Homo sapiens: one gene and its partners. The protein of the gene in region 7 interacts with the protein of the main gene of each other region in a pairwise test. Each region holds a gene or a part of one and is shown on either strand. Other genes may lie near its edges. The genes, in order: MARK3, MARK2, PRKCI, CSNK1E, CDK14, MARK4 and YWHAH.

What was found.
Region 1: the proteins of YWHAH (region 7) and MARK3 interact in binary tests that used the Homo sapiens proteins (3 or more experiments, as listed by UniProt).
Region 2: the proteins of YWHAH (region 7) and MARK2 interact in binary tests that used the Homo sapiens proteins (3 or more experiments, as listed by UniProt).
Region 3: the proteins of YWHAH (region 7) and PRKCI interact in binary tests that used the Homo sapiens proteins (3 or more experiments, as listed by UniProt).
Region 4: the proteins of YWHAH (region 7) and CSNK1E interact in binary tests that used the Homo sapiens proteins (3 or more experiments, as listed by UniProt).
Region 5: the proteins of YWHAH (region 7) and CDK14 interact in binary tests that used the Homo sapiens proteins (3 or more experiments, as listed by UniProt).
Region 6: the proteins of YWHAH (region 7) and MARK4 interact in binary tests that used the Homo sapiens proteins (3 or more experiments, as listed by UniProt).

Annotation. Positions count from the first base shown.
Region 1 is NC_000014.9:103,465,415-103,468,914, forward strand, and holds part of MARK3 (MAP/microtubule affinity-regulating kinase 3), read left to right. Parts: intron 1-142; coding exon 143-379; intron 380-557; coding exon 558-677; intron 678-928; coding exon 929-1,028; intron 1,029-1,664; coding exon 1,665-1,777; intron 1,778-2,618; coding exon 2,619-2,772; intron 2,773-3,500. UniProt on the Homo sapiens protein: Serine/threonine-protein kinase. Involved in the specific phosphorylation of microtubule-associated proteins for MAP2 and MAP4. Phosphorylates the microtubule-associated protein MAPT/TAU. Phosphorylates CDC25C on 'Ser-216'.
Region 2 is NC_000011.10:63,908,315-63,911,520, forward strand, and holds the end of MARK2 (serine/threonine-protein kinase MARK2), read left to right. Parts: intron 1-562; coding exon 563-923; 3' UTR 924-2,706; downstream 2,707-3,206. UniProt on the Homo sapiens protein: Serine/threonine-protein kinase. Involved in cell polarity and microtubule dynamics regulation. Phosphorylates CRTC2/TORC2, DCX, HDAC7, KIF13B, MAP2, MAP4 and RAB11FIP2. Phosphorylates the microtubule-associated protein MAPT/TAU.
Region 3 is NC_000003.12:170,298,924-170,302,423, forward strand, and holds part of PRKCI (protein kinase C iota type), read left to right. Parts: intron 1-71; coding exon 72-187; intron 188-3,500.
Region 4 is NC_000022.11:38,300,434-38,303,933, reverse strand, and holds part of CSNK1E (casein kinase I), read left to right. Parts: intron 1-685; coding exon 686-796; intron 797-924; coding exon 925-1,073; intron 1,074-2,981; coding exon 2,982-3,210; intron 3,211-3,500. Other genes in the region: TPTEP2-CSNK1E (casein kinase I), read left to right, coding at 686-796, 925-1,073, 2,982-3,210.
Region 5 is NC_000007.14:90,725,321-90,728,820, forward strand, and holds part of CDK14 (cyclin-dependent kinase 14), read left to right. Parts: intron 1-1,246; coding exon 1,247-1,492; intron 1,493-3,500. UniProt on the Homo sapiens protein: Serine/threonine-protein kinase involved in the control of the eukaryotic cell cycle, whose activity is controlled by an associated cyclin.
Region 6 is NC_000019.10:45,257,771-45,261,270, reverse strand, and holds part of MARK4 (MAP/microtubule affinity-regulating kinase 4), read right to left. Parts: intron 2,283-3,500; coding exon 2,082-2,282; intron 1-2,081. UniProt on the Homo sapiens protein: Serine/threonine-protein kinase. Phosphorylates the microtubule-associated protein MAPT/TAU. Also phosphorylates the microtubule-associated proteins MAP2 and MAP4.
Region 7 is NC_000022.11:31,947,535-31,951,034, reverse strand, and holds part of YWHAH (14-3-3 protein eta), read right to left. Parts: exon of another isoform or gene 1,883-3,500; intron 1-1,882. UniProt on the Homo sapiens protein: Adapter protein implicated in the regulation of a large spectrum of both general and specialized signaling pathways. Binds to a large number of partners, usually by recognition of a phosphoserine or phosphothreonine motif.

The DNA of each region.
Region 1 (3,500 bases), on a different chromosome or scaffold from region 7:
TTTCTCTAGAAAGAATGTTTTCACATTAATTAGGAGGTAACTTCATATCATTACAGAAAGCTTTTCTAAAATGCCTAATCCTGTCATAATTCTAATTCTATTTTGGCTAAATTTCATTTTTGTCTTGATGTTTTCCCTCTAGGCTGAAAATCTATTGTTAGATGCCGATATGAACATTAAAATAGCAGATTTCGGTTTTAGCAATGAATTTACTGTTGGCGGTAAACTCGACACGTTTTGTGGCAGTCCTCCATACGCAGCACCTGAGCTCTTCCAGGGCAAGAAATATGACGGGCCAGAAGTGGATGTGTGGAGTCTGGGGGTCATTTTATACACACTAGTCAGTGGCTCACTTCCCTTTGATGGGCAAAACCTAAAGGTATAAGAAGCTGCACCCATGTACTTCACTAAACTAAAAGAAGTTTCCTAATATTACATGGCTTAATATTTTTAACATTATATCAGTGCGGGGGGTTTCAGGGGGTTTTTTGTTGTGTTTTGTTAACTAAACCTAAAGGTTGACTTACTCGTTTTCTTTCCTCTGTACCTCTCCAAAGGAACTGAGAGAGAGAGTATTAAGAGGGAAATACAGAATTCCCTTCTACATGTCTACAGACTGTGAAAACCTTCTCAAACGTTTCCTGGTGCTAAATCCAATTAAACGCGGCACTCTAGAGGTAATCATGTAGGTGGAAACAAGCAGTAACTTTGGAGAGTCTTTAGAGTGACCTTAGATCTTTGCTTGATTTGTATGCCATACTGGATATATCCTGCGGCTTTTTAAGCAAGAATTGAAACATTAAAAAATATTTTTTGAGTTTATGCTTTGAACGATAGTCAATGAAATGTTGAAAATAAATTTTTGTAAATATTACGGTTATCAGAATATTTCATTTTACTCTGCTAATGAACAGTTTACCTTTTTTAGCAAATCATGAAGGACAGGTGGATCAATGCAGGGCATGAAGAAGATGAACTCAAACCATTTGTTGAACCAGAGCTAGACATCTCAGACCAAAAAAGAATAGGTAATCACTCCATGCCTGCATGTTCATGTGTTTTTGTCTAAGTAACATATTTCTGTTTTGACTCATGTCTGTGCCTAAAATGTGAATAATGGAAAGTTAAGCACAAGTCATATGAACAGTTTATCTGTTCTGTCATATTTAGGAACGTAACTACCTGCAGTTTCCTATAATGGCACCCAGTAACTCTGAAACAAGTGCCCATTTATGTTACAAAATATATGTAATATGTCATCTTTTAGGTCAAATGAAAATTATTTTACCCTACAAAAGAATGATTTCTGGCCGGGCGTGGTGGCTCACGCCTGTAATCCCAGCACTTTGGGAGGCCAAGGCGGGCAGATCACCTGAGGTCGGGAGGTCGAGGCCAGCCTGACCAACATGGAGAAACCCCATCTCTACTAAAACTACAAAATTAGCCAGGCACGGTGGCTCATGCCTGTAATCCCAGCTACTCGGGAGGCTGAGGCAGGAGAATTGCTTGAATCTGGGAGGTGGAGGTTGCGGTGAGCCAAGATCGCGCCATTGCACTCCAGCCTGGGCAACAAGAGTGAAACTCCGTCTCAAAAAAAAAAAAAAAAAAAAGGATGATTTCTTACCCAAACAAAACACATAAACTGTATTATGCCCTTCTTTTAGATATTATGGTGGGAATGGGATATTCACAAGAAGAAATTCAAGAATCTCTTAGTAAGATGAAATACGATGAAATCACAGCTACATATTTGTTATTGGGGAGAAAATCTTCAGAGGTAAGAGTAATCAGAAAGAGCTGAAATACCCTGTATGTAATTATTAGTTTATATAAACTGTTTTCTTAGTTTTTATCTTTTGAATATTTGTAACATTTGATACATCATTTTTTAGATTTACTTGCAAATAGCAAATCTAAATCCTATGACTATTATAAGCTATTTTAACTTAACCCTTAATGATGGATATTGGCCAGGCGTGGTGGCTCATGCCTGTAATCCCAGCACTTTGGGAGGCCAAGGCGGACAGATCACTTGAGACCAGGAGTTCGAGACCAGACTGGCCAACATAGGGAAACTCTGTCTCTGCTAAAACAAACAAACAAACAAAAAATTAGCTGGGCGTGTTGGCGCTTGCCTGTAATCCCTGCTCCTTGGGAGGCTGAGGCAAGAGAACTGCTTGACCCTGAGAGGCAGAGGTTGCGGTGAGCCAGGATCACGCCACTGCACTCCAGCCTGGGTGACAGAGCGAGACTCTGTCTCAAAAAAAAAAAAAAAAAAAAAAAGATGGATGTTGTCATAAACCTGGTCTTTCATAAATTAACCTGTAGTCATTAATAGCTTAGAAATGACGTAAAGCATCAGATGAAGTAAATACAACATTTAAAGTTATTTGAGAAAGCCTGGAAAGAAAATCATAAATACCTTACCTTTAGTGTCTTTCCAGCCGTCAGAAAACTACTTTTGCTTGAGTTTAGGGTTGTCATTTTTGTACGTTGTGATTCCTCCTCTCTCTGAATGAACGGTTTATGAGAGGTCTGTGTTAATGAAAAGTTTAACTTCCTAATAAGCCATTTGGGTTCGTGTTGTGGTTTGCTCTGTTTTTCTCATTTTCTCTTAGCTGGATGCTAGTGATTCCAGTTCTAGCAGCAATCTTTCACTTGCTAAGGTTAGGCCGAGCAGTGATCTCAACAACAGTACTGGCCAGTCTCCTCACCACAAAGTGCAGAGAAGTGTTTCTTCAAGCCAAAAGCAAAGACGCTACAGTGACCATGGTAAGTTTTGGAGTATCCCAGTGCCTTCTCTTAGAGTCCAGGCAAGAGGTCTCCTAGCACTGGGAAGCATTCTCTTGCTCAGAGCCTGGCTTGATGTCCTTTCTTGGCATTGCTTTCTTTCTTTCTTCTTTTTTTTTTTTTTTTTTTTTTTTTTTTGAGACAGAGTCTCACTCTGTTGCCCAGGCTGGAGTGGAGTGGCACAATTTTGGCTCACTGCAACCTCCACCTCCCAGGTTCAAGCGATTCTCCTGCCTCAGCCTCCTGAATAGCTGGGACTACAGGTGTGTACCACCATGCCTGGCTAAGTTTTGTATTTTTAGTAGAGACGGGGTTTCACCACATTTGGCCAGGCTGGTCTTCAGCTCCTGGCCTTAAGTGATCCACCTGCCTTGGCCTCCCAGAGCGCTGGAATTACAGGCATGAGCCACCGTGCCTGGCCAGCATTTTTTCTTAGTGTTCCTGCAGGTGCTGCCATGATTACATATTACTTCAAGGCTCTTATCTTCTTTATACATGCAGTAGATTTTTGCTGGATAAAGCTTAGTTGAGTGGAAACCTTACCATTTGCCCTTCTAGAACCTCTGCTTTAATCTGTAGTTTTCCTTTTTTTTTTTTTTTTTAAATGGAGATGGGGGTCTCGCTATGTTGCCCAAGCTGGTCTCAAACTCCCAAGTTCAAACTATTCTCTCACCACAGCGTTCTAAAGTGCTAGGATTACAGACGTGAGC
Region 2 (3,206 bases), on a different chromosome or scaffold from region 7:
TGGAGCCAGCACTGGCCCTGCCCGGGCCACCGGGCTTGCCACAGCCTCCTGCTCCTCTCTTCCTTCTGCCACTTGGCTCTTCCTCCCGTGGTTCTGCCCTGTCCCTACCCTCTGGGGCCTCCCTTTCCTCAGAGAGTTTCCCCTTCCCAAACCCAATTGCAGGAGTTACGGGCCCTTCTCCTCAGGTCTGGTATATTCTGGAAGTCGGAGTTCTGGGTCGGGTGGTTGGGGCTACAGATTCCTACCCCTGGACTATCCCACCTCCCTGTGCTCGGAGGCTTCTTTCTGGAGAGAGAGTCTGTGCTCGTGCTGTTGAGGGCACTGGTGTCTTCCCTGACCCCACCCCGCCTACCCCAAGGCTGGCTTCTCCTCCCCTTCGCTGTCCTGAGAGATGGGGGTTGGAGGACTGCCACCCTCCGCCCCCGCAGGCCAGGGGCCACGCCTGGCTGCTCCTGCTCCCTCCCGCTCTCCTCTCTGGGCTCAGGGGCTGTCTGCCAGGGTGGCTCTCCTGGGGTGGGGTGCCTCAGCCCCCCCGTGACGCCCGCCTCTGCCCTCTCCACAGACCTCACGTGGTGGGCAGTGGCGGCAACGACAAAGAAAAGGAAGAATTTCGGGAGGCCAAGCCCCGCTCCCTCCGCTTCACGTGGAGTATGAAGACCACGAGCTCCATGGAGCCCAACGAGATGATGCGGGAGATCCGCAAGGTGCTGGACGCGAACAGCTGCCAGAGCGAGCTGCATGAGAAGTACATGCTGCTGTGCATGCACGGCACGCCGGGCCACGAGGACTTCGTGCAGTGGGAGATGGAGGTGTGCAAACTGCCGCGGCTCTCTCTCAACGGGGTTCGATTTAAGCGGATATCGGGCACCTCCATGGCCTTCAAAAACATTGCCTCCAAAATAGCCAACGAGCTGAAGCTTTAACAGGCTGCCAGGAGCGGGGGCGGCGGGGGCGGGCCAGCTGGACGGGCTGCCGGCCGCTGCGCCGCCCCACCTGGGCGAGACTGCAGCGATGGATTGGTGTGTCTCCCCTGCTGGCACTTCTCCCCTCCCTGGCCCTTCTCAGTTTTCTCTTACATGTTTGTGGGGGGTGGGAGATTGTTCTCCAGCACCCCACATTCACCCCTGCCCAGAGATTCCCCCTTCTCCTCTCCCCTACTGGAGGCAAAGGAAGGGGAGGGTGGATGGGGGGGCAGGGCTCCCCCTCGGTACTGCGGTTGCACAGAGTATTTCGCCTAAACCAAGAAATTTTTTATTACCAAAAAGAAAAAAGAAAAAAAAAATCCCAGCGGCCACCTTTCCTCCCTGCCCCATTGGGACAGTCGAGACTGGATCTGTGGGGTTTCCCGGGAGGGTGGCTCAGGGCTGGAACACTCTCAGGCAAGAGTGGTGGAGCTCCCGTCAGGCCCTCCGCCAGGCCCACTGTGGGCTTCTCCCCTCTCCTCCCTCCTTCCCCTCCAAGCAAACCACCAGAGGTGGCCTTCCCCTGACCTCAGGCCCCTGGGCTGGAGGCCTGGGCGGTGGGGCAGGGGGCGGGGGTGCTGCGCAGCCCTGCAGTGGGTGGGGCTGGGGGCTGCTCCGGGGCTGCTGAGGCTGGAGGGCCGGCACAAGGCTCCGCCTCCCTCCACACTGTACCCTCTGCCCCTCCTCCCCAGAGCTGGGCATTTCCTTCCACAAGCTGCTGTGGGGACGTGTGTTCCCTCAAAGTCTGTGCCATCTTCTCCCACCCCTCCCGGGTAGAAGGAGGGGCTGACCCCAGGGCTGGGAGAGGGGAGGGGACTGGAGGGCAGACTGGCTTCTCGGTCCCCAGGGGGCCGCTTGGGCTGTTGGTCTCCAGAGCAGGGCCACTGGGCACTCTGTGATGGGGGAGCCTTTGTCTGAAAGCACAGCCCCCTCGCCCTTCCTCTCCCCATGGCTTCCCCTTCATTGGCATTAATCTGGGCACCAGCTCTCTCCATAGCAGTGACTTCCCTCACCACTCTCATCTCTCAGCCTTGCCTTTTCTTCCTGACACTGTCGCCCCCTCCTCTCAGGAGACACTGCCGAGGGCCACCTGGCAGAAGGCTGAGTTAGGCAGCAGGGCCGGGAGCGTCTGCCCTCCACAGGGTGGGGGACAGATAGGCTAAGCGACTCCCAGCTTGCTACCCTCAGTGGCCAGTGTGGGCGTGGGCGGTTTGGGGCGCTTGGCTGGTGGTGGCCACTGCATCCCTTAATTTATTTCTCTGCTGTTTCTGTTCTTGAGAAATTGGGGGTGGGAGTCCTACACAGAGGCTGCCCCTACCCTCACCTGAGTTGTACATTTTTTTGTGATGGGTTTTATTTTTTATTATTTTATTTTATTTTTTTTTTTTTTGATTTATGATGACTCCACCCCTCTTCATCACCCCCGCTCCCAGGCCAGGCTCAGCGATTAAGCCGAGCCCTTGCGTCCTAGGAAGGGGCCTTGCCAACCTCAGCCCTCCTGCCCCACACTCCTACTGCGGCTCAGACCAAGGGCTCCCCCTCCCTCCCTTCCCCCCTCCTGCCCTATGGAACAGCCCGGGTGCTCTGAGGGGGCTGGGAGGGCATGGCTTGGCTCCCAAAGGGGGTAGGGGCCCGGGGCACCCAGGCAAGGTGGCCCCTCCCCGTCTAGCCCCCTCCTCCCCAACCCTGCACTTAGTTTCTCCTCTGGATCAAACACGTAATAAAGAGAATGTTTGGAATCTGAGCTGCCTCCTCCTGTTTCTTCTCCCAGCCAGGCAGGGACCCAGTCTCCTGTGGGCAAGATGTGGCCTAGCCCACCTGCCTTGCAGGAGAGACTTGATTCCTGTCTGGGGCCAGTGCTGGGTGGGCCCAGCTCCCCACTTACCCACAGGGCACAGACAGGAAGCAAAGCCCAGGGCCCTTGCACCAAAAGGGAAAGAAAACTCAGTAAGCTTAGATTTTATTTTTTTTAATTTTTAAAAAATGTTGAAAAATAAATCCATGTCTGCATAAGTTCCCAACCCCCATTTCTCCAAGTTTCTGGAAGGTGGGCTTGGTGGGCACCCTCAGCTCCTTAGCATTTCCCAGCTGGCCCCTGAAGACAGAGCTTCTCTTCCAGCCTCTGCTGCTGTAAGGCCCCTCTGCCCACCTCCCCCCCTGCAGCCTCCCTCCCCACCTCACCCCAGACTTATTGCTAAAAGAAGGGAAAGAGGAATGAGAACAGCCAGCACACCCAACTGCCCT
Region 3 (3,500 bases), on a different chromosome or scaffold from region 7:
AGAGGAGAACTGTAGAGGTGGAGTTTTTCTAAGAATACAGACTTGAGCTGTCATCCAGTATGTCTTTTCAGATGGAGCAAAAACAGGTGGTACCTCCCTTTAAACCAAATATTTCTGGGGAATTTGGTTTGGACAACTTTGATTCTCAGTTTACTAATGAACCTGTCCAGCTCACTCCAGATGACGAGTAAGTAATTCTGTACACTGAAATTTTTTTTTAAGTTCTTTGGAAATCCCATTTTTAGTGACTATGCAATGTTTCATTATCAGATTATACTATAATTTTTTTATTTTCTATTTTATTTCATTTTATTTTATTTTGAGATGGAGTCTCGCTCTGTTGCCCAGGCTGGAGTGCAGTGGTGCAATCTCGGCTCACTGCAACCTCTGCCTCCCAGGTTCAAATGATTCTCCTGCCTCAGATACCCTGAGTAGCTGGTACTACAGGCGCGTGCCGCCACGCCCAGCTAATTTTTGTATTTTTAGTAAGGACAGAGTTTGCCATGTTGGCCAGGCTGATCTTGAACTCCAGACCTCAGGTGATCCACCCACCTTGGCCTCTTAAAGTGCTGGGATTACAGGCGTGAGCCACTGTGCCCGGCCTATACTATAATTTATACAACCATTCAGTTACTGGTATTTGTATCTACTGTACCATTATAAGTTTTAATAGTAACTGTCATTTTCTCCTTTGCTTTATAGTGCATTATCTTATTTTCACAACAACTTTGTAATCTAGTTACTGTCATCTTCGTTTTACAGATGAGGAAACCAAGGCTCAGAGAGGTTAAGCAAAGTTACACAGCTATCAGGTGGCAGAGTCAGGATTCAAACCCAAATCTGACTGACTAAGGCCTGTGCTCTTTCTACCACGCTGCACTGTTTCCCATTTGACAAGGACTGTCTTTGAGTTCCTGAGTATTGCCTTAAGATAGATTCCTAGAAAGAGAATTAGGTCAGAGGGTATTAACATTTTAAAGCTCTTGTATTGCCAAATTGCTTTTTTTAAGAAATTACATTGAGTTATTAAATCCAGCCATCAGTGATCTGGTATATTTTTTGTGCTTATACTTCATCTTTTAAACATGTAGTTTGGAATAATTGGGAGATATTTTGATTATTTACCTGTTGTTACAGATTCATTCTCTCTAATCTCAGGGAGGCCCTTATTGTTTGGCAGTCATTTCACTTCTATCTCATTTCTTACCACATTTCTCCCAGCACCTGCTCCAAACAGTCTCTTCATTTCAGAAGCCTTCAGTTCTACTCCTTTTTCCATCACTGTTAATGGATTAACCTTGTCTTAATTTGATGCAAGGACTGATAACCTCTCTGACGTGACCTTGCCTCCTTTGCAGCTGTCCCCAGACCACCTTGCATCTCAGAATTGCTTTCTAACTCTTTTCATCATTTTCTTATTCCCTACTCTTGGAAGACTCTCCTTTACAAGGGGTGTCCCTGCTATTTTCCTAGACCTGTTTCCTTAGTTTTCTCCAAGATTTCATTTTGTCAGTTATCTTTTTATTAGACCTTCTTTATTTTTTTCTAGCTTGTTTCCCTCTGTGTAAGCATGCTCAGATACTCTGATTTTTCCCCCTAACTCATGGCCCCTCTTTGAACAACCACGTTTTTCCTCATTTTCATTTCATCTTAAAGCCTCAAAAAAAAAAAAGTTAATAGATGTTCATGGTCAAAGAAAAATAAATACACAGCACCTCTAATCAAACTTCTTCAGACTAGTCAACATTGATTGTCTTGAATTTTTTTTTTTTTTTTTTTTACTGTCAACACTTCAACCCCTTACAATCGAACCTGTCCTCCAGCTTTTGAAGGTTGAATCAATTTCTTAATTTCTAAATTGTAAAGCATTTTGGGGTCAGTCCTCCTCTCCCTTGATTAATGTAAAGCATTTGGTACTCATGGCTTTGCCTTGGGTAGCACTGCCTATTCTGGTTCTGTTTCATCTCTGTGACTACTTTCCTCTCATGTGTTTTCCCTGTCCCCTTGAGACCAGGATGCTCCATGGTTCTGTTCATGACAGCCTTCTTTTTGCTATATGCAGTTTGTACCTTGGAGATTTCAGCCAGCCCTGTAGCATAGATACCAGCTAATTAAATGGCTCTCAGTTAAATGGCAAATGGTTATTGAGCAAAAGGTGTTATGGTAAATACTAGACATTCAAAGACAATCAAGACAGTCTGATCTCCCCAAAAGCGTGCTGTCTACTAGAGGAGAAAGATGTGTACCAAGTCATTATTTCTGACAGCATTGTGTATTAGAAGGAACACTGGATTTAATCAAAAGATAGGAGTTTGAATCCCGATGCCACCTCTTACCAACTGGGTAACCTTGGATAGGAATTGCATAACTTCTCTGAGCCTGTTCTCAAATTGCCTACCTCATAAGGTTGCTGTGAAGAATAAATGCATGATGGTTTCTGAAGCACTTATCCCCTGCCGTTAGATCTCCTGAGCTGCATTTCTGTTTAACACGGCCCCCAGTTTGTCAGCCAAGCAGCTCAAATATATGAAGTCTAAAATGAAAGTAATGACCCTTTATGATCTCTTTCTATTGTTCTCAATCAGTTCCTTTTTTTTTAGTTACCTAATTCTGCTCACGGTGTGTCCCTGTTGTTCAGATTCCAGATGTCAGTGATTGTGGACTCCTCCTTTTTCTTAACAGATTACATAATACCTGCAGCTGCCAAGTCTTTGTCTGTGTTTTCATTATTTCATCATTTACATCAGATCTTTCTTTTCTCTTCCCGTTGACACACCCTAGTTCAGGCCTCATTCAAGTCATACCCAGAGTATTGTATCAGCCTCCTAATTGATCTTTACTCCTTCACTTTGCAACCTATTCTGTATGCCTTGTGAAGTACCACTCCAATTCTTGAACCCCTTTAATTAGAAACCTTCAGTAACTCCTTCATTGCCTATCAGGTAACATCTATCCTCTTGGCTAGCATTTAAGGCCTCCCCACATCTGCTCCAGCCTGACTTTCTAGCGATACCTCTCACCATAATACAAACAGTGTTCTGATCAGTCTTAGCTACTCACCATTCCCTAGTAGTATTATTGTCTCTGCTTCTGCCTGTTCATTCCTGTGTATCCCGCCTTCATTTTTACCTATTGAAATTTTCCCATCTTTCAGAGCCACCTCAGATGCAACCAGATCTTTGATGGATCAAGGTGAAACTCCTTAGTGTAAACATCACTGGCCTCTTTGATTTAGCCATTATTTTTCTTCAGCATCATCTAACACACTTCTATTCCTGTGCTCCACCCTAATTACTTGCATTTCCCAAGACCTACCACAGTCTTTCATCATTCCATTCATTAAGTGTTTGCAGAATGAATACTGCCTTCCTTGATTTCTCCAACTAGAAGTCACACCTTTCTTTAGAACCATGGTTAGAACAGGACTTAGCTTATTGTGTATAAAATTTAACAAGTACTGCTTTCTCTTCCAGTAGGAATTACCTCCCTTCCTTGAAGGA
Region 4 (3,500 bases), 6.4 Mb from region 7:
GACGGGGAGGTGCAGGCAGGACCTCTGACCTATGCTGGAGGCCAGCAGAGCCGGGGTTGATCTCAAGGCCGCCATTTACAGGTCAGGTGACCTTGAGCTGGGTCTCTAGCTGGGTCTCTGTTTTCTCATCTCTACAAGGGGGTTGAGAATCGAATGAGACACTGGATTAGAATGTGCAGGGCTGCCTCTGAAGGCATCAGCATTGACTGAGGGGTTGCTGCGGCTGTCCCATCCTCATCCTGTAGGCCAGGGTGGTCCTGGCTTGTTCTGGTGTGTTCGGCAGCCCAGCCCCATTGGGCCTCTTCTGCACGTGCCACCATCTCAACCCGACAGACCTCACTGCCTGAATTTGCTCTAGGACTCAGCCCCCTCCCTTAGGTGGTCTGTGAGCCTTTTGCATACCTGACCCTTGCCCCACTCACATCGGGCCTTCTTGTCGCCCCAACCTGTGGCCCTGGGTAGCCCTTGTGTGTCACCTCTGTCCCTCACAGCGCTGACCTTCTTTCCCCTCAGGAACCCTTTGCCGGGGCTCCTTTGCCCCCTTCCCAGCCTCCCCCAAGAGCTCCTCAAGGGCAGATGGCCCCGGGCCCGGCACACGCCAGATCTCAGAAATGCTTAGTGGGGCGCCTGGGACTGCCTGGCCTTTGAGGGTGACCCTGGTCCCTTGCCTCCCTGCCCCGGGCAGGTGCCAACATCGCCTCTGGTGAGGAAGTCGCCATCAAGCTGGAGTGTGTGAAGACAAAGCACCCCCAGCTGCACATCGAGAGCAAGTTCTACAAGATGATGCAGGGTGGCGGTGAGCGCAGGGTGGGCGGCGGCGGGCGCCGGGTGGGTGGCGGTGGGCAGCCATGAGCACAGGGTGGGCCGGGCGTGGCTGGCTGCCTGCCTCTGACCCCTGACAGAGGCCCTCTGCTTGACCCCCAGTGGGGATCCCGTCCATCAAGTGGTGCGGAGCTGAGGGCGACTACAACGTGATGGTCATGGAGCTGCTGGGGCCTAGCCTCGAGGACCTGTTCAACTTCTGTTCCCGCAAATTCAGCCTCAAGACGGTGCTGCTCTTGGCCGACCAGATGGTGAGTCCCCGTCCCCTCCATCCCCAGCCAGATGCCTGTGGGCCCAGGATACCAGCCCTGCCTCCTGCCCCCAGAGGATGCCAGAGGATGGGCCTGGGCCAGGGGACCTTGTCCACTGGCTATAGAATTGTAGGTGTTTATTTATTTTTTGAGGCGGAGTCTCACTCTGTCGCCCAGGCTGGAGCGCAGTGGTGCGATCTCAGCTCGTTGCAACATCCGCCTCCCAGGTTCACGCGATTCTCCTGCCTCAGCCTCATGAGTAGCTGGGATTACAGGCACCTGCCACCACGCTGGGCTAATTTTTGTATTTTTAGTAGAGACAGAGTTTTACCAAGTGATCCGCCCATCTTAGCCTCTCAAAGTGCTGGGATTACAGGCGTGAGCCACCGTGCCCAGCCAAGTTGTTTATTTAAAATGTGATTTCAGGCCCAACTCCAGACCTGCCGAGTCAGGGCCTGGGACTCTGCCTGGGGTAGTTTTATTTATTTATTTCAAAAATATCATTTAATTGTAAGAAATAGAGATGGGGGTCTCACTGTGTTGACCAGGCTGGTCTCAAACTCCTGGCCTTGAGCAGTCTTCCCATCTTGGCCTCCCAAGATGGGAATTAACACGGGATCACAGGCATGATCCACCACGTCTGGCCTGCCCTGGGTAATGTAAAGCCTGCGGTCGGTCACACAGACCTGGTCCTGTTCCAGACCAGTGACCGTAGGTGAACGCCGAACCTCTCTGAGCCTCAGTGGCCTCATGTGAGAGTCTCTCCTTTGTTGGTTGTTGAGGGGATTAGGTGAGATACCATTCAGCGCCTTGCCAAAACAGGCCCCTCTAACAGGCTGTTGTTAAGTACTAAGCCCTTCATCAGCATAGGGAGGAAAGCTTCTTAAAAATACAAAACTGTAGAATTTTGAACTTGGAATGGAATGTGGAGATCTCGTACAGGGGTTTTAATCTTGGTCTGCAAAAGCCCTGCGATGTAGGCTGAAGGTGTGTGAGCAGAGGGTCGCCAGAGCCCCTCATGGTGTGAAACTCAAGAAAGGTGCAGGAGATGTTGAGCTGTGCTGAACCTGGGGCCAGAGCCAGAGGCCACGGCATGTGGATGGATATTAGTTTGAGTTTTAAAAACTCGACTGAAAAGGTGGCTCAAGTCTGTAATCCCAGCACTTTGGGAGGCCGAGGCAGGCGGATCTCCTGAGATCGGGAGTTTGAGACCAGTCTGACCATCATGGTGAAACGCCATCTCTGCTAAAAATACAAAAAATTAGCCAGGTGTGGTGGCGCGTGCCTATAGTCCCAGCTATTCGGGAGGCTGAGGCAGGAAAATCACTTGAACCCTGAAGGCAGAAGTTGCAGTGAGCCGAGATTTTGCCACTGCACTCCAGCCTGGGCAACAGACCGAGACTCCATCTCAAAAAAAAAAATATCAAAGGAAAGAGGGCCATGTGCCTGTCTGAGTTTGGCATCCTTCGGAAGCCCTGTCTTTTGTGTTCTGCCTCTGTCACCTCTTCCTGGTCTAGGCTTCCCCCATGTTCCCTGCCTGCCCCTCGCCCACATCTGTTGCCTCTCTGGCTCCCTAAGTCCTGTGAGTGTGGGGCCGGGCAGGCAAGCCTTCCATGGGGAACCAGTTGCCTTTCTAGCAGACTCTTCATTTCTGGATCTTCCCATTAGCTTTCCTGCAATACTCTCTTTCTCTGTCTCACAGCCAACTTGGTGAACTCCCCCTTTAGAGTTCATCCTGATGTCACATTTTCCAGGAGGCCTTCTCTGGCCTGCCCCTTAGTTATCCTTCATGGTCGAAGGCAGGCCTTTCTCCCTCTGCCTTTCCACCTCTGTGGCCCCAGCCCCTGCCTGGCCCAGAGTGCTAGGCAAGGGCCCCTCTGTTGAACAAATGGCCCCCCTCCTCCCCAGATCAGCCGCATCGAGTATATCCACTCCAAGAACTTCATCCACCGGGACGTCAAGCCCGACAACTTCCTCATGGGGCTGGGGAAGAAGGGCAACCTGGTCTACATCATCGACTTCGGCCTGGCCAAGAAGTACCGGGACGCCCGCACCCACCAGCACATTCCCTACCGGGAAAACAAGAACCTGACCGGCACGGCCCGCTACGCTTCCATCAACACGCACCTGGGCATTGGTGAGGGAGCCAGGCCTGGAGCAGTGTGCACCCGGGGCCACTGGCTGGGGCCCAGCTCTCTGGAGCCCTCTCACCCCCTACCCTGATGGAGGCCCCCAGGCTCTTTTCTAGTGAGAAAGTCCCCACCCCGTCTGCCCCCAAGCTCGTGCTTATTCCGTGTCCTTGCACAGTCGGGTCTTCCCCTTCGTAAGCCAAGCTGTGTGTGCCGGGCGCCTTCCCTGGCCCTGCTTCCTCCTCCGCCCTGTTGGTGCAGGCTGGAAGATACAGGCTCAGAGGTTTAACATGGGTTG
Region 5 (3,500 bases), on a different chromosome or scaffold from region 7:
CCATGCTCATACACTCACAAATATCTATATCTATGCATCTGTGTCTGTATTTATATCTGTATCTGTCTATATCTATCCATATACATAGCCGCATTTATACCCCACATGGAGTCATTCTATACATATTAGCTCTGTGTATCTGTGGGTTCTGTATGCACATACTCAACCAACCACGGACCCAAAGTGTGTATTCAAAAACTTCGTATTTTTACCTTAACAGTGTGGGCTTTTCATAAATATCTTCGGTTTTTCTGCTTTTGATAGCATATAGGGATGTGGGAACTTTTTATAAGAAGAAAAGCATTCTAAAAACAATTTTATTTAGAGTTATATTTTCTTTAGAGAGAACAATTAAATTAGTTAGCTTTACAGACAAGCCAGAGGCCATCAAATTATTGAATAAAGACAACAAAGTCTCCAGAGTATCGGGAGAATGACAGGCTTAGAACTAAAGTAAAAAGCAAGGAGCAAAAATCACAGAGACTGAAATAAAATGAGAGGGTGGGGAAGGCTGGGTGAGAAGAGAATGGGTGAAGAAGGAAGAAGAAGGGAAGGAGGTGGAGGTCTAGTGGAATAATGTAAACCAAATTTTGAAATGAATGCTTTTTGGTGTTTTTCTTTTACAATGTTATTTCTTTTTATCCATTAGCTTTGAAATAAAGGAAACCCCCACCATTGTCCTCAGTTCTTCAGTATCTCTAACCATTAGCTCCATTCATTCCAATTTGGAGATGAAATCAAGATGGGGACAGATTTTAAGCATACATATTCATGCATAAAACTTTTAAACAACATAATGCCCTTTCCTTCTCTAGCCTAGGTTAGCTGCTTACACGATGACCCATCAGTTAATGTCCATCTGATTTGCCTATTTTTTGTTTTTTAAATTAAGGCTAGTTACCCAACCTCTTAATGATTCAGAAATAAACCACTTCCAGTCAGATGGTAAAACGTGTGACAGAGTTCAAGAATCATGTTAGGGTACTACTAGCAGCCTGGGCCTTAAGTTTCTCATTTTAGAGGTAGATTTTTTAGTGTAAGCTCTAGTGTGAGATCTAAGTGTAAACACAATGATTGTGAGGATTTTTTTGTACTGTAATTTATGCTGATGCAGCTTTTAGAATGTGGGCTTTTTGGGTATTTCCTGAAACTGAAATTGGCATGCTTTCTAGAGTTATATATTGGCATGTTTAGTGATATTAAAGTTGCAGTGAAGAGTTCTGAATTTAATTTCTTCTTTTCTCAGATATGTGTCACAAAGATGTCTACACGGAACTGCCAGGGAATGGACTCAGTGATCAAACCCCTGGACACAATTCCTGAGGATAAAAAAGTCAGAGTTCAGAGGACACAGAGCACTTTTGACCCATTTGAGAAACCAGCTAATCAAGTAAAGAGGGTGCATTCTGAGAACAATGCTTGCATTAACTTTAAGACCTCCTCCACTGGCAAAGAGTCACCTAAAGTTAGGCGGCACTCCAGCCCCAGCTCGGTAAGTGCAGTCTTTTTGTTTATCACTGGGTAAACAGAAGGAATAGCCTTCTTATGATAGCATGCGGTGCTGGAAGACAGCAGGAAACTTTATCAGTGCCTTATTATGCATTCTCTCCCAGGGTGGTTGAATGTTTTGGAAGAGAGAGAGCAAACTATATATGGACTCCTTATTTATAAGCACTAAGCAAGCAAATGAATGAAATGATTCAACTTATTTTTGGAAAAATCATTTTTCCCCCTTAATTGTTTCTAGTTAGAGGAATTTATAATTAAAAGTCTTTTGTATTTCAAACCCTTGGAGAGGTTATTGAACTTTACTGTGTAGGCAGTAAGGATAGTTTTGAAATTAGCAAATTCACAAGGAATTTCATTGCAGAATAAATATCAAAATTTGTTCACTTGCGTTAATCCAGTTTTTTTTGGGGGGGTACTCCACCAGTCTTTCTCATGTGACTCTGTAAAGTGACAAGTTGAAGTTCTTTTCCAGGACAAAGCCCTGTACTGAATGGAAAATGCTGGAGTAGAAATCTGTGTAGGGTAGATTCAGTAGGACCAAAGGAAAGAAGAGAATGTCCAGAAAGAAGTGTTAGAGGGAAACAGACTTTAGATATAACTAGTGATTTACAAGTTAGAAAGGAACACACCAAGAGAGAATATTCTCTGTTATATTTCTATTCTCAAATACATTTTTTCCTACTTTTTGGCTTAAATTAATATACATTATTTACAATTGTATGATAATGTAAATTTTGGTCAGGGAAACCACAAGTATGCTATGAATAAATTTCCTTCCTTGCACAACTTCTTCATTTTCTTAGTTGTCATTGTCTACTTTTCCTTCATTCAAATTAAGATAATTTTAAACACAATTTGAGGCCTGCAACTATATGACAAAACTGTAAAATGCCTCCAAAACAAATCAGATAATCTATCAGTTTTTCTCCCCCACTGAGATTGCCCTGGCAGTTCTTCATAGTCCTAATTTAATATAGATTGGTTAACCTCTAATCCTATAGTCATAAGGCGTCCTTTTCTGAGAATTTTTTCCTCCTTTTTTAATGTTAAATACCCATTCTCTGGGTTACATGTCTTTCTTGTTCTTGGTTTATTTCATTGTTTTAAAGTACATCCTCGCAGTAGCTTCTTGAGAAAGGGTGATGGGGGGTTTGTCATATGACTATGATTTTATCTGTCGTTGATTACTTGATTAATAATCTGGCCAAGTATGTGATTTTAGTTTAGAAAATAATTTTTTCTTAGACTTTTGAATACCTTGTTTTATTGTTTTCTAGGTGCCTAGATTGTATTGAAATCCCTAGACTATTCTGGTTTCCCAGTTCATCCTTTATCTGCTTTTTTGTTTGTGGAACTTTCTAGGACTTTCTTTTCATCCCTGGTGTCATCCTTTTTCTTGGTATCAATGGGTGTTTTCAATTTTTGAGTTAATTTCTTTCAGTTTCAAAAATTTTCTTATATGTTTATTTAATTTTTTGTAATCTTCTCTTTTACGATAACATTTTTATTAGTTGGATGTTGGCATTATTGGATTGATCTTCTAGTTACCTTTTCTTTTCCCTATTATTTTAAATCTTTTTTTTCCTACCTTCTGGGTTTTTTTAACTTTTAATTTTTAACCCTTCAATTGGATTTTTAATTATACTAATATTTATTTCCATGAACTCTTTCTTATTCTTTGAATGCTCTTTTAAAAAGTATCCTGTTCTATTTCAATGAATAACATATCACTTCATATGTTTCTGAGGATACAAAATGTAGCTTGGGGAATTTTTTTTCCTTTTACATATTCTCTGAATTATTTCTGGATTTCCTTTGAGTTTCTTGTTTCTGTTTATTTGTTTTGGTCTCTGCCTTACCTGTTGAGATTTTTGGTGGGTCTATGTCATGCCTCTTGGAGAGAAACTGTTGGCTGTCAGTTTATGTTATGAGTAATGTACTCAGAAGTTGATTGGAAGCTCTGTGCCTGGGTGGCTTGTCAGTTGGTTGGC
Region 6 (3,500 bases), on a different chromosome or scaffold from region 7:
CCTGTAATTTTGTTTCTTGTCTGGTTTTGCTCTTAAGGACAAACTAGCGCGTAAAAATCAGTCAGGCAGTGGCAGTTCTTTCTTTAGTCTCTGGAAGAACTGGCATAAAATGTGAACATCTGGTAGGATTTGCCTGTAAGACCATCGGGGCCCGGTGTCTTTTGCGTGTATGGTGTAGACAGCGTGAGGGCAGGGGAGAGTCCATCCAAGGCAGGATAATTCATTCCAATCATTTCTCTGAAGTTGAAGGAGGGGTGGGGAAATCATGAAATCACCCACCATTCCTTTTCCTCTAAGTGAGTTAGAGACCTCATATCTAGGCTGCAAAGCCTGTGTGGGCCCTTTTTGCAATAATGTCACCATACTCAGCACAGATGCCTGCTCTGGAAGAGGTGGTGGGGAGAGTGAGGCTGTGTGTAACTGAGAATACAACATAAATAAACCTGCTGTGTTCTCCAGATCACAGGAAGATTTCAAGGAACCAAAGTCCACCCTTAAAACAGAGAGGCAGCTCAGGTTTATTTATTTTTTATTTTTAATTTATTTACTATTTATTTATTTATTTATTTATTTTTTGAGATGGTCTTGCTCTGTCACCCAGGCTGGAGTGCAGTGGCACAATCTCGGCTCACTGCGGCCTTCGCCTCCTGGGTTCCAGTGATTCTCCTGCCTCAGCCTTCCAGGTAGCTGGGCTTACAGGCACGCACCACCACACCCAGCTAATTTTTGTATTTTTTTTTCAGTAAAGATGGGGTTTTGCCATGTTGGCCAGGCTGGTCTCGAACTCCTGACCTCAGGTGATCCACCTGCCTCGGCCTCCCAAAGCGCTGTGTTTGTTGGTATGAGCCACTGCACTCGGCCAATTTTTTTTTTTTTTTTTTGAGACAAAGTCTCGGTCTTGTTGCCCAGGCGGAATACAGTGGCACCATCTTGGCTCATTGCAACCTCTGCCTCCTGGGCTCAAGCAATTCTCCTGCCTCAGCCTCCCAAGTAGCTGAAATTACAGGTGCCTGCTATCACACCAAGCTAATCTTTATATTTTTAGTAGAGACGGGGTTTTACCATGTTGGCCAGGCTGGTCTTGAACTCCTGACCTCAGGTGATCCACTTGCCTTGGCCTCCCAAAGTGCTGGGACTATAGGAGTGAGCCACCGCGCACGGCCTTTTAATTTTTTTATTTTTTTGAGACAGAGTCTCACTCTGTCACCCAGGCTGGAGTGCAGTGGCATGATCTCGGCTCACTGAAACCTCCGCCTCCTGGGTTCAAGCGATTCTCCTGGCTCAGCCTACTGAGCAGCTGAGATTATAGGCATGTGCCACCACGCCCAGCTAATTTTTGTATTTTTAATAGAGACAGGGTTTCATCATGTTGGTCAGGCTGGTCTCGAACTCCTGACCTCAAGCAATCCACCTGCCTCAGCTTCCCAAAGTACTGGGATTACAGGCGTAAGCCACCATGCCCAGCCCTCTTTTATTTTATTTTATTTTTATTTTTTGAGATAGGGTCTCACTCTGTTACCCAGGCTGGAGTGCAGTGGTGAGGTCACACCTCACCGCAGCCTCAAACTCCTGAGCTCAAGCGATCCTCCCGCCTCAGCCTCCCAAGTAGCTGGGACCACAGGCACACACCACCGCACCCAGCTAATTTTTAAAAAATTTTACTTATTTTTTAGTGGAGACAAAGTGTTGCTATGTTGCCCAGGCTGGTCTCAAACTCCTGAGCTCAAGGAATCCTCCTGCCTTGGCCTTTCAAAGTGCTGGGATTACACGTGTGAGCCAATGCATCCGGCCACAGCTCAGGTTTATCTACAAAAGCCACATGCATCCTTAGCAACGCACACATTGGACTGCCTGTGATCTGAGATTTCCCGGCAATTTCAGGGATACATGAAATTAGTTCTCTTTTCCCATGGGGGTGGTTCTGGGAACATCAGAGATATTGTGACCTGTCCCATAGAGAGTCGGGAACTTACCTGAGGCCACAAAGCAAACCCAGGGCCAATCCTGACCTCTATCAACATACACCGAAGACCTGGTCCCACAGGGACCTGCCCCGAGCCCCACCCTGTGCCCATACTCACCTCCCGACCAGTGAGGATGTGCCGAGCCAGCTTGACTTTGGCAAAGTTGCCCTTCCCAATGGTCCTCAGCAGGCGGTAGTTGCCCACGTGGGGCTGCTCCTCGGGACAGGAGGCGATGGAGTTCCGGCAACGGGCACCCAGTGAGCGGCTGGACCAGGACGGGCCTTTGTCCGAGGAGCGGCCACTGCCCAAGGTGCCATGCTGGGCGGGGGAGATGGAGCATGAGCTATCCAATCCCACCTTCCGTGGAACCCGTGGGCTAGTGCACTTAACTTGAGGCCTGGCTACCGGCCCCTCCGTGGCCCTTTTCAAACTCAGGCCCCAGAGAGCCAAGCATCCTTCATCTTTCTCTACAAAAAGACGCCTCCAGGAACAAAAGCCCCCATGTCCTCCAAATCTGCAACATTCAGGGCCCCAGGCATCACACCCCTTCTTCAACCCTCACTGCAGTCTGACTACCCCCAACCTCCTTGTCTTTTTTTTTTTCCTTCGGATGGAGTCTTCCTCTGTCACCCAGGCTGGAGTGCAGTGGCACGATCTCAGCTCACTGCAACCTCTGCCTCCCGGGTTCAAGCCATTTTCCTGCCTCAGCCTCCCGAGCAGCTGGGATTACAGGCGTGCACCATCATGCCTGGCTAATTTCTGTATTTTTAGTAGAGACGGGGTTTCACCATGTTGACTAAGCTGGTCTCAAACCCCTGACTCAGGTGATCCACCTGCCTCGGCTGTACGGATTACAGATGTGAGCCACCGCATCCAGCCCCAACCTCCTTTTCTAATTACACACATACCTCAGAGATATCGCAAGTTTGGTTCCAGACCACCGCAATAAAGCAAATACTGCAAAAAAGCAATGCACATGAATCTTTTGGATTCCCAGTGCATATAAAAATTATGGGCCAGGTGGCCAGGTGCAGTGGCTCAGGCCTGTAATCCCAGCACTTTGGGAGGCTGAGGTGGGTGGATCATGAGGTCAGGAGTTCGAGACCAGCCTGGCCAATATGGTGAAAACCCCATCTCTACTAAAAAAATACAAAAATTAGCCAGGCATTGGCACACGCCTGTAATCCCAGCTACTCTGGAGGCTGAGGCAGGAGAATCACTTGAACCTGGGAGGCAGAGGTTGTAGTGAGCCGAGATCGCTCTACTGCACTCTAGCCAGAGTGATAGAGTGAGACTTGGTCTAAAAAAAAAAAAAAAAGGCCAGGCATGGTGGCTCACACCTGTAATTCCAGCACTTTGGGAGGCCGAGGCGGGCAGATCACGAGGTCAGGAGATTGAGACCATCCTGGCTAACAAGGTGAAACCCCATCTCTACTAAAAATACAAAAAATTAGCCAGGCGTGGCAGTATGCGCCTGTAGTCCCAGCTACTTGGGAGGCTGAGGCAGGAGAATGGCATGAACCCAGGAGGTGGAGC
Region 7 (3,500 bases):
TGTAATCCCAGCTACTTGGGTGGGACATGACAATCGCTCGAACCCAGGAGGTGGAAGTTGCAGTGAGCCAGGACTGTGCCACTGCACTCCAGCTTGGGCGACAGAGCAAGACTCTGTCTCAAAAAAACAAAAAATGAGCTAGAGGGATGAAAGCTTGCTGAGCTCTTTCCCAAGTTAATGCTTAGGAAGTGAGGATCTTGCCTGGCCTGCCCCAAGCTGGAAAGATATCCACCAACAGACCAAGTCCTACAGGCCACTGGGCAAGAACATCACCAGCCAGGGTCAGGCTGAGCCCCTTATCCTCACCAGGATGAGGCTGCAATTCTGTAAGACCACAAATAGGCTAAACTTCAAGCTCAGAGCAGGCAAGTTCGGGTAAGTAACATCCACTCTAAGCTAAATTTTAGTCAAATAAAACAGCTACCCTTGTATAGCCAAGAGACTGTTTTTGCCTTGCTTTTGACATAACTGAACATTTTCATGGGGATTGGCAAGGATTAAATACAACACCATCTGAATGGCATTACTGCATGCTACTGTCCCTAGAGGCATCCGAATTGAAGGCTTCAGAAGCTGTGCCAGGTTCGGATCATTGGAAGTGCTAACACTCACCACCGCAGAAGGGAATGCCACTGCAGCCAGGAGTAGGGGCGGGAGGAGCACCAAAATGCTGGGACAGAAGACAAGCTGCCTCCACTTGGACACTAGGAGGAATTTTACCAGCAACCTAGAGACAGAAATTTTGGGGCCTGCATAAAAATATACTAAAGGGTGCAGGGAGAAAAATACATTAAAGGCAATATGGAGAAACAACTGGTGCCAAGAATATGAAATAATTTCTTAAAATACCCCAAATAAAATGTAACATAGTCCTGCACTTCTTAACTCAGGAGAAACTCAAATTCAATACTTTGTTAAGCAAAAAAAAAAAAAAAAAAAAAAAAAAAAAAAAAAAAAAGGCCTCCAAGCCTTCAGAACAAGCAAAATCCAGATATGTGAGTTTCCCTCTTATGTTTCTCTGTTGTAGCTAAAACCCATAAATGGCAGATTGTTCTTAATCGTATTTGGAAAAAAAAAATGACTTGCACCCAACAGATAAAATTATTTGTTTAGTAAGCCCACTTATGAAGAGTTCTTGGATTTCAGTCACCAGTGCTGACAATGGTTAATATACCAGAATGTATACTAGACATATTATCCCTTTGCCTCATGGGGCATTGTTACATAGTGGTTAAAATGAGAGCTCTAAATTTGAGTTTGAATCTTGAATTCACAACTTACTAGCTGTTTGACCATGAGAAAATCAACCTCTGAAAGTCTCATTTGTAAAGGGGAGTAACAGTACCTATCCTGAATTGTTAAACAAGAATGTACACATGGAAGGTGGCGGGCACCTGTAGTCCCAGCTACTTGGGAGGCTGACACAGGAGAATGGCGTGAACCCAGGAGGCGGAGCTTGCAGTGAACCAAGATCCTGCCACTGCACTCCAGCCTGGGTGACAGAGCATGACTCCCCCCCCCACCAAAAAAAAAAGTACACATGGACTAACAGCTACCGTTTACCAAGTGCCTAAAAAGTTAAATAAGTTCTAACCAAGCGCAGTGGCTCACGCCTGTAATCCCAGTACTTTGGGAGGCCGAGGCAGGTGGATAACCTGAGGTCGGGTGTTCAAGACCAGCCTGACCAACATGGAGAAACCCCATCTCTACTAAAAATACAAAATTAGGCGGGCATGGCATGGTGGTGCATGCCTGTAATCCCAGCTACTTGGGAGGCTGAGGCAGGAGAATTGCTTGAACCCGGGAGGCAGAGGTTGCAGAGAGCCGAGATTGCTCCATTGTACTCCAGCCTGGGCAACAAGAGCGAAACTGTCTCAAAAAAAAAAAAAAAAAAAAAAGTAAAATATGTTATATAAACTTGCTAAATGTAACACACACACACATAAAACGTTAGGGGTACCCTCTCCGAAACCGTATTTCTGGAAAAGTGTGACGCTACAGTCTGTCACTGATATAAAATCCCAGACAAAGACCAACTAAAGAAAATCCCCACCAAAGAAAATACATTTTTGGTTTCTTTAAGGGAGTCAGTTCCGGACTGTGGAAGTTCTTCTGGGGATAATTCAGGGACCCAAACCCACATGGGGACTACAGTTTCTATTTCAGTGCAAGAAAGCCACGTAAGCTGTTTGCCCACCTGAAAGGACCTTTTAAATTCAAACTATTACAAGAATAATCCAGAGCCTTCTTCCTTCCTCAAAGACGATTACATTTTAAATGCCCAGTTAGTGGGAAACATAGCTCCCTAGTTTTTACATATTTCAAACTGTAGTATCAATGTGGCTTTAAGATTTCCTACTGGTTGGGTGTGGTAGCTCACTCCTGTAATCCCAGCACTTTAATAGGCTGAGGCAGGAGGACTGCTTGAGGCCAGGAGTTTGAGACCAACTTGGGTACCATATAGAGATCCTGTCTATACAATTTAATAATTAGCTGGGCACGGTGGCATGCATCTGTAGTCCCAGCTGCTCAGGAGGTTCACTTGAGCCCAGGAGCTCAAGGCTACAGTGAATTATGATCGTGCCACGACTGCACTCCAGCCTGGGTTCCAGAACGAGACCATCTCTTTAAGAAAAAAAAAAAAAATACTAATCACACCTCAAAATCCTCCTACTCTCTGTGACACTGATCTGTCTCACCTGGGGCAGTCAGCTGTGCACTTTTACACAGCACCTGCTCATTTCCCCACTTCCCAGAATCTCACAGTTGTTGCAACAACAGCCTTTTGCCAGTGGTTGGGCCAAATGCCCCTCCTCTCCGACTCCTGTTTCCTTAAACTGTAGTTTTGTTTCCTGCACTTAAGATTTCTAGGGAGCCGCTGTGGCTCAGGCCGGTTGCCCTGGCACTCGGGGAGGTGAGGCTACACGTTCGAGGCCAACCTGGTCAACACTGATTAAAAAAAAAAGATTTCTATATATATATTCTGCAGGTACTTTAAACGTGTTTCTGCCCGTTTTCTGTCAACACTGTAATCAACTGGTGTATCAGTGTTAAAACACAATGCTAGCCCAGTAATTTTTACATTTGATAACTTTACAGTTACCATCTATGTTTTAATATAAAATAGATGACTTAGGGCCATAATACATGATGAAATTATGTCTGTCTATGAATATCCACCAGAAATCTATCTGGTTATTTTCCCTCTTTCCTTAAATCACTTAGTCTTCTGGACTAACATTTAATCCCACTTTATAGGTTTATTTCAGTTATCAAATGGTATTTACAGAGACTACGAATTGTGTAGCCTAGAATTGCCTAGCCTAGAAAGGACTTAGGTTCTAGAATCTTTCACAATATTTCTTCCCACTATTATACTCTATGCAAGCTGGTAGGTATGAGATAGAGCTTGAAGATACTCCTTTATGCTTCACTTCAGAAACATTTCTTGCTTCTTCAAATTATGGAGAGAAGCAGGGAAGAGAAGTTCTCAACAGGTT